Linked DNA regions of Homo sapiens. The protein of the gene in region 2 purifies or fractionates together with the protein of the main gene of each other region. This does not show direct contact. Each region holds a gene or a part of one and is shown on either strand. Other genes may lie near its edges.

Region 1 (3,653 bases), on a different chromosome or scaffold from region 2:
CCCAGGTGTGATGGATGAGCTCAGACCCTTGCTCGGATCTCAGCTGGAGTCCCAGCTCTGCCTCCTGCTAGCTCTGTGATTTCTGGCCAGTGTTGTAACCACTCTGTTGTTTAGTTTCCTCCTAGACAAAATGAGAAAAATAATTCCTATCTCACAGTCTCTTCCTCCCGGTGCCTCTAGAGCTGTGCTGTCCGGCACAGCGGCCCCTAGCCACAGGTAGCTGCTACAAATTAAAATGAAATAGAATGTAAAATCCAGCTCCTCCATTGCCCTAGCACCTAGCCGCTTTCTAAGTGCTTGGTTGCCACATTGCAGCTAGTGGCCACCATACGGGACCGCACAGATAGAGAACATTCCCATTATCGCAGAAGGTTCTATTGCGCAGCACTGAGCTAGGGATTTGGACAGCCTAGAAGGCCGTGCCTTCTGAGCTCAGCTTCCTGGATCTGAATCACAGCATCCACTACACATGCCCACTGCATTTTTCCTGGCAGGGGAGAGGGTTGGAGACCTCAGTATCCCCTGAGCCCACCCTCTCTAGAGGCCGTGGGGAGCCGGGCACAGCTTTGGAGTCCTCTGGGCAGCAGGGGCTGGAGGGCTGCACCTCCGTTCACCACCCCTCCTCTTTAGCCTTCCTCTAGCAAGGTCTCAGGCTTCCAGGCCCCACGTGGGGTGAGGAGGGAGGAAGAATGGCTTTGCTTTATGAGTACTGAGCCCCCATCCTGCCAATCTGAGCATTAGAAACTCTCATTAAGAACTGTTGTATTTAAATTAGAGCTAATCTCAAGCACAATGCAGGGAGAGGGTGCTGGGAGGAGCCACGGGAGAAAGCTACAATTTTTTCTGCCATTGTCACTCTCTCCCAGGCCCAGATTGCTGAGCAGCCCTGGCAAATGCCTGGGATTTACTGCAACCAGAGGATATAATTTGCACCACGTGCAGGGAGTTAAAATACCCCTCCGGCATCCCCTTCACTGAGGGTCTGTCACAGCCGCTTTGTTCCTTCCCAAATCCCCAGATCTGTAGCCCTGGGATGGGAAGGGGAGGGGGGCCAGCCCTTGCATGAGCAAATCCCCTGTTGGCAAAACACTTAAGCACTGCTCTCTACCTGAGGGCTGGGATCCAAGACCCCACATGACAGCAATAATGACAGCTAATGGATAGTGCTTAGCAGGTGCCAGGCACTTTTCTTAGCACTTTACAAATATTAACTCATTCAACCCTGACAACAACCACTGGGGTTGGATGTTATTATGACTGTCTCCATTTAGTGATAGGAATACTGAAACCAGAGAGGTTAAATGACTTGCCCAAGGTCACACAGCCAACGTATGGCAGAATCAGGATTTGAACCCAAGGAAGTCTAACCTTGAGTGTTTTTGGAGGGGAAGGGACCAGGCACCTTCCAGATAGGCAAAACAGGGTACTCACACATGCAAGAAAGCCCAGAGGGACTGGGAAACTCTCTAGTTATCACCCTGAGGCCAGAAGTGAGTTGGGAGAACCGGTTCTTTATAGCCCTGTGGGATAGTGAGGTGCCTTTATCCACAGACCCTGTCTCAGATGCAGCCAAAGTTCAGAGCACCACGGACCATCAGGGCTGAAAAGGCCAACCTCTCCATTTTCATAGGAAATTGAGGCCCAGAAAGAAGCCACCCCTACCCCCAGGTCACAGTCTAGTTACTGGGTGAGCTGGGCTGGGACCCAGGTGTCCTGACTCCCGCCCTGCGTTCTCCCATGCTCCATTGTTCTCTTGGGAGACCTCATGGCAAGCCCAGGCCCCACCACGGAGACCCCTCTGTGAAGGACTGCCCCTTACCCTTTGTCCCTTCCCCAGGACAGAGTCTGTGGCTGAAAAGATGCTGACCAATTGGTTCGCCTTCCTCCTGCACAAGTTCCTAAAGGTGAGAAAGGGAGTGAGACGGGGCCTAGCGTCCAGGGCAGGATGGCACTGCTGCTTAGATCCTGGCCACAGGGCTGCATGGGGACCCCCTCCCTCGGGAGCAGGAACCTGGACTGGCTGTGCTAAAGCCCTTCCTTCCACTGGCCTCGCTCCGAGAGAGGAAAGGGAAAACGTACAAACCTGAGGAGGCCGTGCCCACACCTCCTGCCCTGTCTGTGCCCACAGGAGTGCGCAGGGGAGCCACTCTTCATGCTATACTGTGCCATCAAGCAGCAGATGGAGAAGGGCCCCATTGATGCCATCACGGGCGAGGCCCGCTACTCCCTGAGCGAGGACAAGCTCATCCGGCAGCAGATCGAGTACAAGACCCTGGTGAGGAAGCCGGAAGCTCCGGGCCCGCCTGTGTATCTTCTACTTCTGCCCCTTGCTCTGCCTTCTGTCCATAAAAGCAGTCTAGGGGGTCAATAAAGAGGATGGGAGGCTGGTCTGGGGTGAGCCCAAAGGACAACTAAGTGTACCAAGAGCAAGGTGGCAGGCCCGCCCACCCATCCCAAGCACTCTATGCCTCGGTTTATCCTAGATAATATTGGGGGAGAAAAAAGTTCACCCATCATTAGTTATTGGGTAATTGGTATTATGAGAAAGATGTATGTTGGTTCCTAACATAGAGGCTTTGGGGAAGTGCATGACTAGTCTCTGATACATGTAGAGCCATCTCTAAACACTGAGGGTGCCTCATTCCAGGACTATAGTCTCCCCTAAGCTGTCCAGGAGCTAGAAAGTAGAGTCCTGGTGCTTTGAGAAAGAAGAATTGGACACAATGACTCAGACTCTCATTTGGCAGATGTTATGAAGGTGAGGGAAACTGAGTCACAGACCAGAAAAGTACCCTTATTTCCCCTATAAGGAGGGTGAACTTTGGAAAAAGAAGATTCTGAGGTCCTGACCCTCTCCCTCAAACTACTCCTTCAACTCCTGTCCTGCTCACCCTCTGTCCCCTACTTGTAGATCCTGAACTGCGTCAACCCTGACAACGAGAACAGTCCAGAGATCCCAGTGAAGGTGTTAAACTGTGACACCATCACACAGGTCAAGGAGAAGATTCTTGATGCCGTGTATAAGAATGTGCCCTATTCCCAGCGGCCGAGGGCAGTGGACATGGACTTGGGTAGGAAACCTGGACTCAGAGTGTGAGGGCAGGGGTTGAGAGGTGAAGGAAGGGAAGCTGCCATGCACACAACCCTTGCAGGGGCATGACTGTGTCCTGGCCAGCTGAGGCCCGTGTGAAATGCTTCCCGCTTTGAGCGCTGCCTGTTCAGATGTGGCTGTCTCTGGGGAGGTCTACGTGTTTCCTCTGCTGCCTGGGCCCATGGAGCCCTAGATGTCTCTAGCCTCTGTTATTGGTACCAGCTTGAGGGGGCCGGGTTGCCAGGTCCCTAGAGAAGGTGCAATCGGGAGACACTGGCTCACAGCCCTCATCCCTCTCACGCCGCTCCCTGCACCACCCCCTCCACCCAGAGTGGCGCCAAGGCCGGATCGCCCGGGTCGTGCTGCAAGATGAGGACATCACCACCAAGATTGAGGGTGACTGGAAGCGGCTCAACACACTGATGCATTATCAGGTGAGAGGGGGTGTCTTTTCCCCTCTTCAGCTTCCCAGAATGTTCCCTTCCCGCTAAGCCTTGCTCTAAGGCCTCAAAAGTCTAAAAAGGATTTTCCTCTCCCTGCTTTCCTCCTCCTGCTGGAGCAT
Region 2 (3,653 bases):
AATATGACAATAGGAGTTATTTCTTGGTGGTTGCATTACAGGTAATTTTTGTACTCTTATTTTTGTTTGTATGCATTTTGTGCAAAAAACACATACCAGTTTCACAATAAGAAAACAGGAATTTAAAAAAGCAAATCACACTGAGTTGCTTTGATGAGATTCTATAGATTCAAAGAAAGTCTGCTAATTGCAGCTAATAAAACAATGTTTTCAGTGACCTTCTATAATTTCTGTAATATTTATTTCTGTTTTGTCTAAAGGACATATTTAGAAACTAGCAATGAATATGCTGAGTGAAAACTGCAACTACTTGTTTAAATACCAGAAATGCCAGAACAAAATATGTACACCCCAGGAAACTAATATCATATAAAGTATAGAAAATAAGGGAAAATATACTGCATGCTTATCATATTGGTTATTTTTAAAAACTAAAATAAGGATTTAATTATATTTTAAATAATTTGAAAAAAATTTACAAATATTGTCTTCTTGGATTCAATATTTATACAAGTATTATTATGTTATCCAAAGAAATAATTTTAATACACACAAAACTTTTAAGTGCTTATTAAATTGTTTGGTTTATGAGGTAGTATTTGAAGGGTTTCAATCATGTCCTAATGACTTAGTTTTTCATCTACTGTCATAAACTAAAATCACACCACCTTATTATTGGGTCAACTCAACTTCACAGTTTCATCTAAGAGTTTATTGGAAGAAACAAAAGCAAAGAATAATTTCTGAAGTATCTTTGGGACTTTGTGGCTAAGTCTCAAACTGGCAAGGACATTAGCAGTGTGGCCATCAGTTGTCATAAAAATCACATGACAAAAGCTTTATTTAAATAGAAGATTATTTATTTCAGGATGACCATAAATTGTTCAGAAATGGAGATAGTAAAACTATTCATCCTGAAATTTGGAAAATGTTCAAGTGTTTGGGATTATTTGGATAAAGTTTGGCTCATTTTTGTTTAATTTTTATTATCCAATTTTCATAGGGAAGTTCTGTTTATTCAAGCCAAGTACAATTAATATTGGGTGTTTGTGTGTATTAGACATGTGGTTATTAGCAATTTTACATTTGGGGCCATTTGAAATAATGTCTCATGAGAATTAGATCATTAGATTATGAAGAAATGCTAAAGCCTTGGGCAAGAGTTTTGGAGTACTTCTGGAAATAGTTTATCTTCTTTTTTTATCTTGAAAAATAATCAATTTACCAGGCCTAATACATTTATTTTAAGGCCAGACACTTATGAATTTTATGACAAGGCAAAACCTATTTTTTTCTACTTCTTAATTTTCCTGAAGTGAAACAACTAATTTTTAAAAATGAAAAATGCATTATTTGAAATAAATCACAGCATAGCTACTCAAATAGGCCTTGAGAAATATTTATTCAATAAACAATAAGTTAATGGCCATTTTATGCAAAATAAACCATTATTTACTTGTCTTTTCATAGTAACTCAAAAGTAACTTTTATGCTTCATCTACATAGGTTTCCTGCACCATACACCACAGAAAAAGAGATAGTTGTATGGTCTTTTCAACTAAAACAAAATATGCAGTATTTATCACTAGCCATATATTTTTCAAAATGGAGGGTATTACCTTGCATGATATAAACTGTTACATCTAGATAATAACATATTCTTAATAGGTATATTCATTCATTCTAAATTAAGCATTTCATTTAAACAATCATAAAAGATGAACAATGCACATATGTGCGTGCACACACACACACACACTCACATGCACACCAACCAATCTTCATAGAGATGGGTGAACAGTGACACTCAATAGTTACAAGAATAGAAAAGGTAAAAATTTATCACAAGCAGGCAGAAGCAATGTAGTGTATTTTGGTTGGGAGCTAGAGGTAGAATCTGAATCTCAGCAGGAAAAGAAATGTAAATGGACATAATAGCACTCTGGTGAGCTGTGGGGTAGAAAAGAGAAAATAATTAAAAGTTATAATTAGAGTTGGTATTTCTCACAAGGCAGTCATTATCAATGAGACAGTGCCGCTGGATTGACAGGAGAGATTAAGAGGAGATAACACAGGCTATTTCCTAATGTAGGGATTACAGATGGTAAAGGTCTTTTCATCAATGTTTATATGTTTATTTGGGACATACGTTTATTCTATATTCTATTTTGTACTCTATCAAAGAACTGCCTTTTGGATGGAAATTGTGCATTATATTTAGAGTATCAGAACCAAGAGCAGCAATCTTTCTTCTGCACGGGCCTGAGGAAATACGAAGTTTGGAAAGGCATCTCTTTAACTGATTTTGCTCTTGTCCTTGCTATTTCCCATTTTAAAAGTTCTATTGCCTAGGAAATATAATTCCCTTTTAAGAAACATTCAAAATACTTGAAATTTCATTATCTGGTCAGGATAGGTAATAGTTATCACCCACATAAGCTCAGTATGATATAGAACTCTAATTTGAACCCAGGTCCAATAATTTTTACCTAGCTTTAATCAAACATTAATTGAGAACTAAATATGTGCCTGGCATTATGCTAGGTACTAGCACAACAGGCAGAATTGTATTAACTTGTTTTAACCAAACTAAAAATAATGCAATTTAGTCTTCCAGATCTCAGAATCCTATAGGTCAGTTGAAACAATAATTTCCAGAAAAAAATTGTTCTTAAAATTAACTAGTACATTGCTTCCCTGGAAGGATAATACCATGATCCTTTACCTCTAATAATGCCATTTTAGATATTGTATAGATGTCAGAGACAGTGGCCCAAAGAAAAATGAAGGAACCAGTAGATAGTATGAAACAAAGAAAACAGCAGACCATCATCAGATCATCCCACCTGTTGACTAGATAGTCCCAGTTGAGTTGTATCCAATTCCAGGCCATGTTCTTCCCATAGCTGTTATATGAGATATATCGAATGACTGTAAACACATCCTGAGTTTTAATAAGGTTCGTGTCCTTGAGCAAATCCAAATACCTAAGAGAAGCCAAACAGAAAAACAATTCAAAGTGAACTTTTAATGTTCACCCTTAGCTAAATTCCAATACAAAATAGTTTTCATGCCAGCAATTCAATTCTTGAGGTATCAACTGACAAAGTTAATTAAATATGACAAATGATGAAAGACAACTTAAAATTTTCTGATATGTTTAACTGTTTTAAAAGACCAACCTATGATTTTAAAGACTAGTGGAATGTAAACTATAAAACATTTAAAATTAAATTATTTTAGAAGCACCAAAAACAATTTTAAAACACATTGTTTTTAATTTAAAAATTAAAATGTTAATTTTAACCATTAATATTTTAAAACAGCATTTATTGAATAGAGTACTTCACACACTTTCCCATTATCCCACTGGATTTTTAAAAGAAGCCAGTAAATTAAGAGAATGTATCTATGCTCTTATATTCTATAGGAAAGCAGTTGTTTGCTCTTCCCTAGATTGTAAGAAATAATCCTATAATGTAACCTATATGGTTATATTAGTTGGCAATAATTAAGAATACAAATAAGTACAAGATAAATTAAATGACTAAATGGATAGGTTTAATTGTATGCCATGGCTATACCTAGAGTAGCGTTTCTAGCCCAAGATCTTACAAGTGTATATTGTATTGAAAAAGTGTTTCCAAAAAAGG
Region 3 (3,653 bases), on a different chromosome or scaffold from region 2:
CCTCTCTACTCTCTGTCTGCACCTTTCCTGCCAGCTGCCTTCCCAGCACCAACTTGTTGCCCCATCAGCTCCCCTGTGCATGGCATGCACATCCCCGTATGTGTCTGCATGTGCAGGTGTCCGTGGGCATGTGTGTGGTTGTGGATCTGCAAGCAGGGAGTGAGCTGTATGTGAGCTGGTATTTCTGTGGTGTGTCTTCTCTGGGAGGGGTTGCACTCATGAGTGGGTGTGTTAGTGTGTGTGCCTGAGGGAATCAACACACAAGTCTGCTAGCTACGTGTGTCTTCTTGTATGTCTTTATGTATCTGTGGGGATGAATCCCTGTATCTATTATCTCTGTGTGCACACACATGTAGAGAAGAATTCTTCTTGCAGTCACATTGCTATAGCTTTCAGAGCCAACTGATGCCTGGGTGCTGTACAGACCTAAAAAGCTAATGGGGGGATTGGGAAGTGGGATAGAGAAGGGAGGAAAGGGGCCCAAGATGGCAGCATTTCACAAAATAGTTTCAGGAAAATGAAGAAAGAATGGGGAAAGGGCCAGGCGTGGTGGCTCACGCCTGTAATCCCAGTAGTTTGGGAGGCTGAGGTGGGTGGATCTCTTGAGGTTGGGAGTTTGAGACCAGCCTGGCCAACATGGCGGAACCCCGTCTCTACTAAAAATACAAAAAGAAAAAAAATTAGCCTTGGTGGTGGGCGCCTGTAATGCCAGCTACTTGGGAGGCTGAGGCATGAGAATCACTTGAGCCTGAGAGGCGGAGGTTGCAGTGAGCCAAGATCGTGCCACTGCCCCCCAGCCTGGGTGATGGAGTGAGACTCTGTCTAAAAAAATAAATAAAAATAAAAATAAAAGGCCAGGCACAGTGGCTCATGCCTGTAATCCCAGCACTTTGGGAGGCCGAGGTGGGTGGATCACCTGAAGTCAGGAGTTCAAAACCAGCCAGGCCAACATGGTGAAACCCTGTCTCTAGTAAAAATACAAAATTAGGGCTGGGCGTGGTGGCTCACGCCTGTAATCCCAGCACTTTGGGAGGCTGAGGCAGGCGGATCATGAGGTCAGCAGTTTGAGACCAGCCTGGCCAACATGGTGAAATCCTGTCTCTACTAAAAATACAAAAAAAAAAAAAAAAAAAAAAAAAAAAGCCAGGCGTGGTGGCTCATGCCTGTAATCCCAGCTACTCAGGAGGCTGAGGCAGGAGAATCACTTGAACCCAGGAGGCAGAGGTTGCGGTGAGCGGAGATTGCGCCATTGTACTCCAGCCTGGGTGACAGAGCAAGACTCTGTCTCAAAAAAAAAAAAAAAGTTAGCCTGGCGTGGTGGTGCATTCCTGTAATCCCAGCTACTTGGGAGGCTGAGGCAGGAGAATCTCTTGAACCCAGGAGGCGGAAGTTGCAGTGAGCCAAGATCGCACCATTGCACTCCAGCCTGGGCAACAAGAGCGAAACTCCATCTCAAAAAAAAGAGAGAAAGAATGGGGAAGGAAGCCTTCCCTTGAGAACTGGTGTGGGAGAAGAGAGGAAGGAGGAAAACAACCCCCTGCTGCTCCTCAGCCCCCTGGGGGTCAAGAGAGGCCACTGAGGCCTCCTCCCTTCCAGATGCTCCAGGTTAGGGTCAGGACAGGGGTCAGGACAAGCTCTGGGACATTTTCCGTGACAGTGTTTCTAACACTTCTTGTGTGTCTCAAAGTCCCAATTTCTAGGTCTTTGTCTGAGTCTTCAGAGCTCAACTGCTGCATGTGTCCACCCCAAACCCAAGCCACACCGGCCATGTCCATATTCACCTACAAGTAAGGGGAGCCAAAGACTAAGGGTCTGAAAGAGGGGGCTCCTCTGACAATGACAAGAGGAAACAGACTCCCAAGTGGCCAGACCACTTCAATTCCAAACAGGAAGTGGTTAAAGTGCAGGCAAGGCAAGAAAGGGTGTTGTTAGGTGACAGAGCTTGGAGGCTGAAGTCCCAGACTAGACGCCTTCATTAAATCCATACTGTGCATCCTCCCTCTGCCCAGCCAGGACCTTATCAAAGCGGGCACCGAGCCTCAGCAGGAACACCGAAAGGATGGTAGAGAAGTCAGCCATGCTGTGCTAAGGCTCTGGGCCTTGTCAGTTTTGTGTAACAGAGTGACCCAAGAAGAGCTGTGAATGCGGCAGATCCCGTGGGGACTCTGGGCAAGAGCTTGCTGCAGAGGGTGGTGGAGAAGCAGCAGGGTGGGTCAGCGTGCATGGCCTGGAGGCCAAGAGATGACTTGGAGGGTAAGAAGAGTGATTCCCAGCCTGCAAGAGCTGGACCTGGGCCCAGAAGGGAAGAGCAACAGTGGATCTGTTCCACCCCGGCCTCTCCCTACAAAGCCAGTGGATCAGGGGAGGCCCCAGGCAGCACTGGCCTCAACTTCAAGGCCTGTAGGAGCAGTAGGAGACTCGGATCAGAGAGCAGATGATCAAACAGCAGCCTTGGGAGCTCTGAGCACTGGTCTTAGGAGGGGGAGGGGAGGAAACCGGAGCAAGGAAAAGCTCAAAGAAGGACCCTCCTGCATGTCAGAGGCTTTTGGGTGCTCTGGAGGTCGATAATTTCTGCCACGCAAGTTCCTCTATTTGTCCTCCAAATCTAGAATCCTGGAATGGTGTTTGGCATGTACGCTCAGGGGAAATACAATATCCCCAAACCCCTGGTCCCCGCTCCCTGCCCCATCCCAGCCCCATCCCATCTCCCCACAGGCTCATATCCAACTTCTTTTTTGGTCTCCCAGTATTTGCCACCTAGCTTGCCACCGCCCTGGGCAGTCGGAGACAGGCAGGAAGCAGCCAGAAGGTTGCGAGATATAACAGCTGGGAGGGGGCGCTCCCTCCTCTCCTCCCACTGCTGCTGGGTCTCTGATCTCTCACCATTCCTCAGGCAATTACAGAGCAAGCAGCTAGGGTTGTCAGCTCAGCAGGCCCTCTACCCCCCACCAGCACCACTAAGGGCAAAGGAGCGGGGAGGGGGGAGTGTTCCACAGATGGAGCCAAGGCCGGGTCTGCCAAGGGTGACAGACAGAGTGAGAAGAGGCAGGGGGGAGCAGGAGACAAAGACAGACGTAGGAAGACAGCGCTAACCACGATGGAGATGGTTAGGGGGTGGGGAAATTCCGAAACGGAGACCCAGGCAGCAGAGAAAGGGAGAGAAGAGGAAACCGGAGCACAAAGGGTGAGAGGCAGCTGCAGAGTGCGCCGCTGAGAAATGGCAGAAAGAGCGAGAAGAGTGAGGGGTGGGGGTGGGCGTGTGCACGTGCGCGTGCGCGCAGGCCGCCTGCACAGCGTCCTTGTCCCTGGGGGCTGTGCCAGGCAAGGGGCGGGGAGGAGGGAAGATGGGCCTGGGTCAGTGGAGGGGCTTCCCGGCGTGGACGTCACGCTGGCCTGGGAGCAGGGTAGAGAGACAGACAGAGGGTGGAGCAGCTGTGAGCTGGGGCCGGAGGGGCCTACAAAGCCCCACGCAACAGAGCATCAAGGCCCTGCCCACTTGTGGCACTGGGCAAGGGACGGCCGTGAGACAGGATGAATGGCACACTGCTGGCTGACCCATGCCATGCCAGGGAACAGGTGGGGGTCGGGGGATTCCTGCTGCGGGTAGGAACGGGGGGAGGGGGAAGCACCCAGAAAATCCCAGGGAAGCCTTC

What was found.
Region 1: the proteins of ENPEP (region 2) and PLXNA2 fractionate together in Homo sapiens (co-fractionation; one large-scale study listed by BioGRID). This does not show direct contact.
Region 3: the proteins of ENPEP (region 2) and L1CAM fractionate together in Homo sapiens (co-fractionation; one large-scale study listed by BioGRID). This does not show direct contact.

Annotation. Positions count from the first base shown.
Region 1 is NC_000001.11:208,038,243-208,041,895, reverse strand, and holds part of PLXNA2 (plexin-A2 precursor), read left to right. Parts: intron 1-1,837; coding exon 1,838-1,904; intron 1,905-2,128; coding exon 2,129-2,275; intron 2,276-2,911; coding exon 2,912-3,071; intron 3,072-3,421; coding exon 3,422-3,525; intron 3,526-3,653. UniProt on the Homo sapiens protein: Coreceptor for SEMA3A and SEMA6A. Necessary for signaling by SEMA6A and class 3 semaphorins and subsequent remodeling of the cytoskeleton. Plays a role in axon guidance, invasive growth and cell migration.
Region 2 is NC_000004.12:110,552,649-110,556,301, reverse strand, and holds part of ENPEP (glutamyl aminopeptidase), read right to left. Parts: intron 2,988-3,653; coding exon 2,847-2,987; intron 1,951-2,846; coding exon of another isoform or gene 1,905-1,950; exon of another isoform or gene 1,384-1,904; intron 1-1,383. UniProt on the Homo sapiens protein: Regulates central hypertension through its calcium-modulated preference to cleave N-terminal acidic residues from peptides such as angiotensin II.
Region 3 is NC_000023.11:153,876,174-153,879,826, forward strand, and holds part of L1CAM (neural cell adhesion molecule L1 isoform 1 precursor), read right to left. Parts: intron 1-3,653. UniProt on the Homo sapiens protein: Neural cell adhesion molecule involved in the dynamics of cell adhesion and in the generation of transmembrane signals at tyrosine kinase receptors.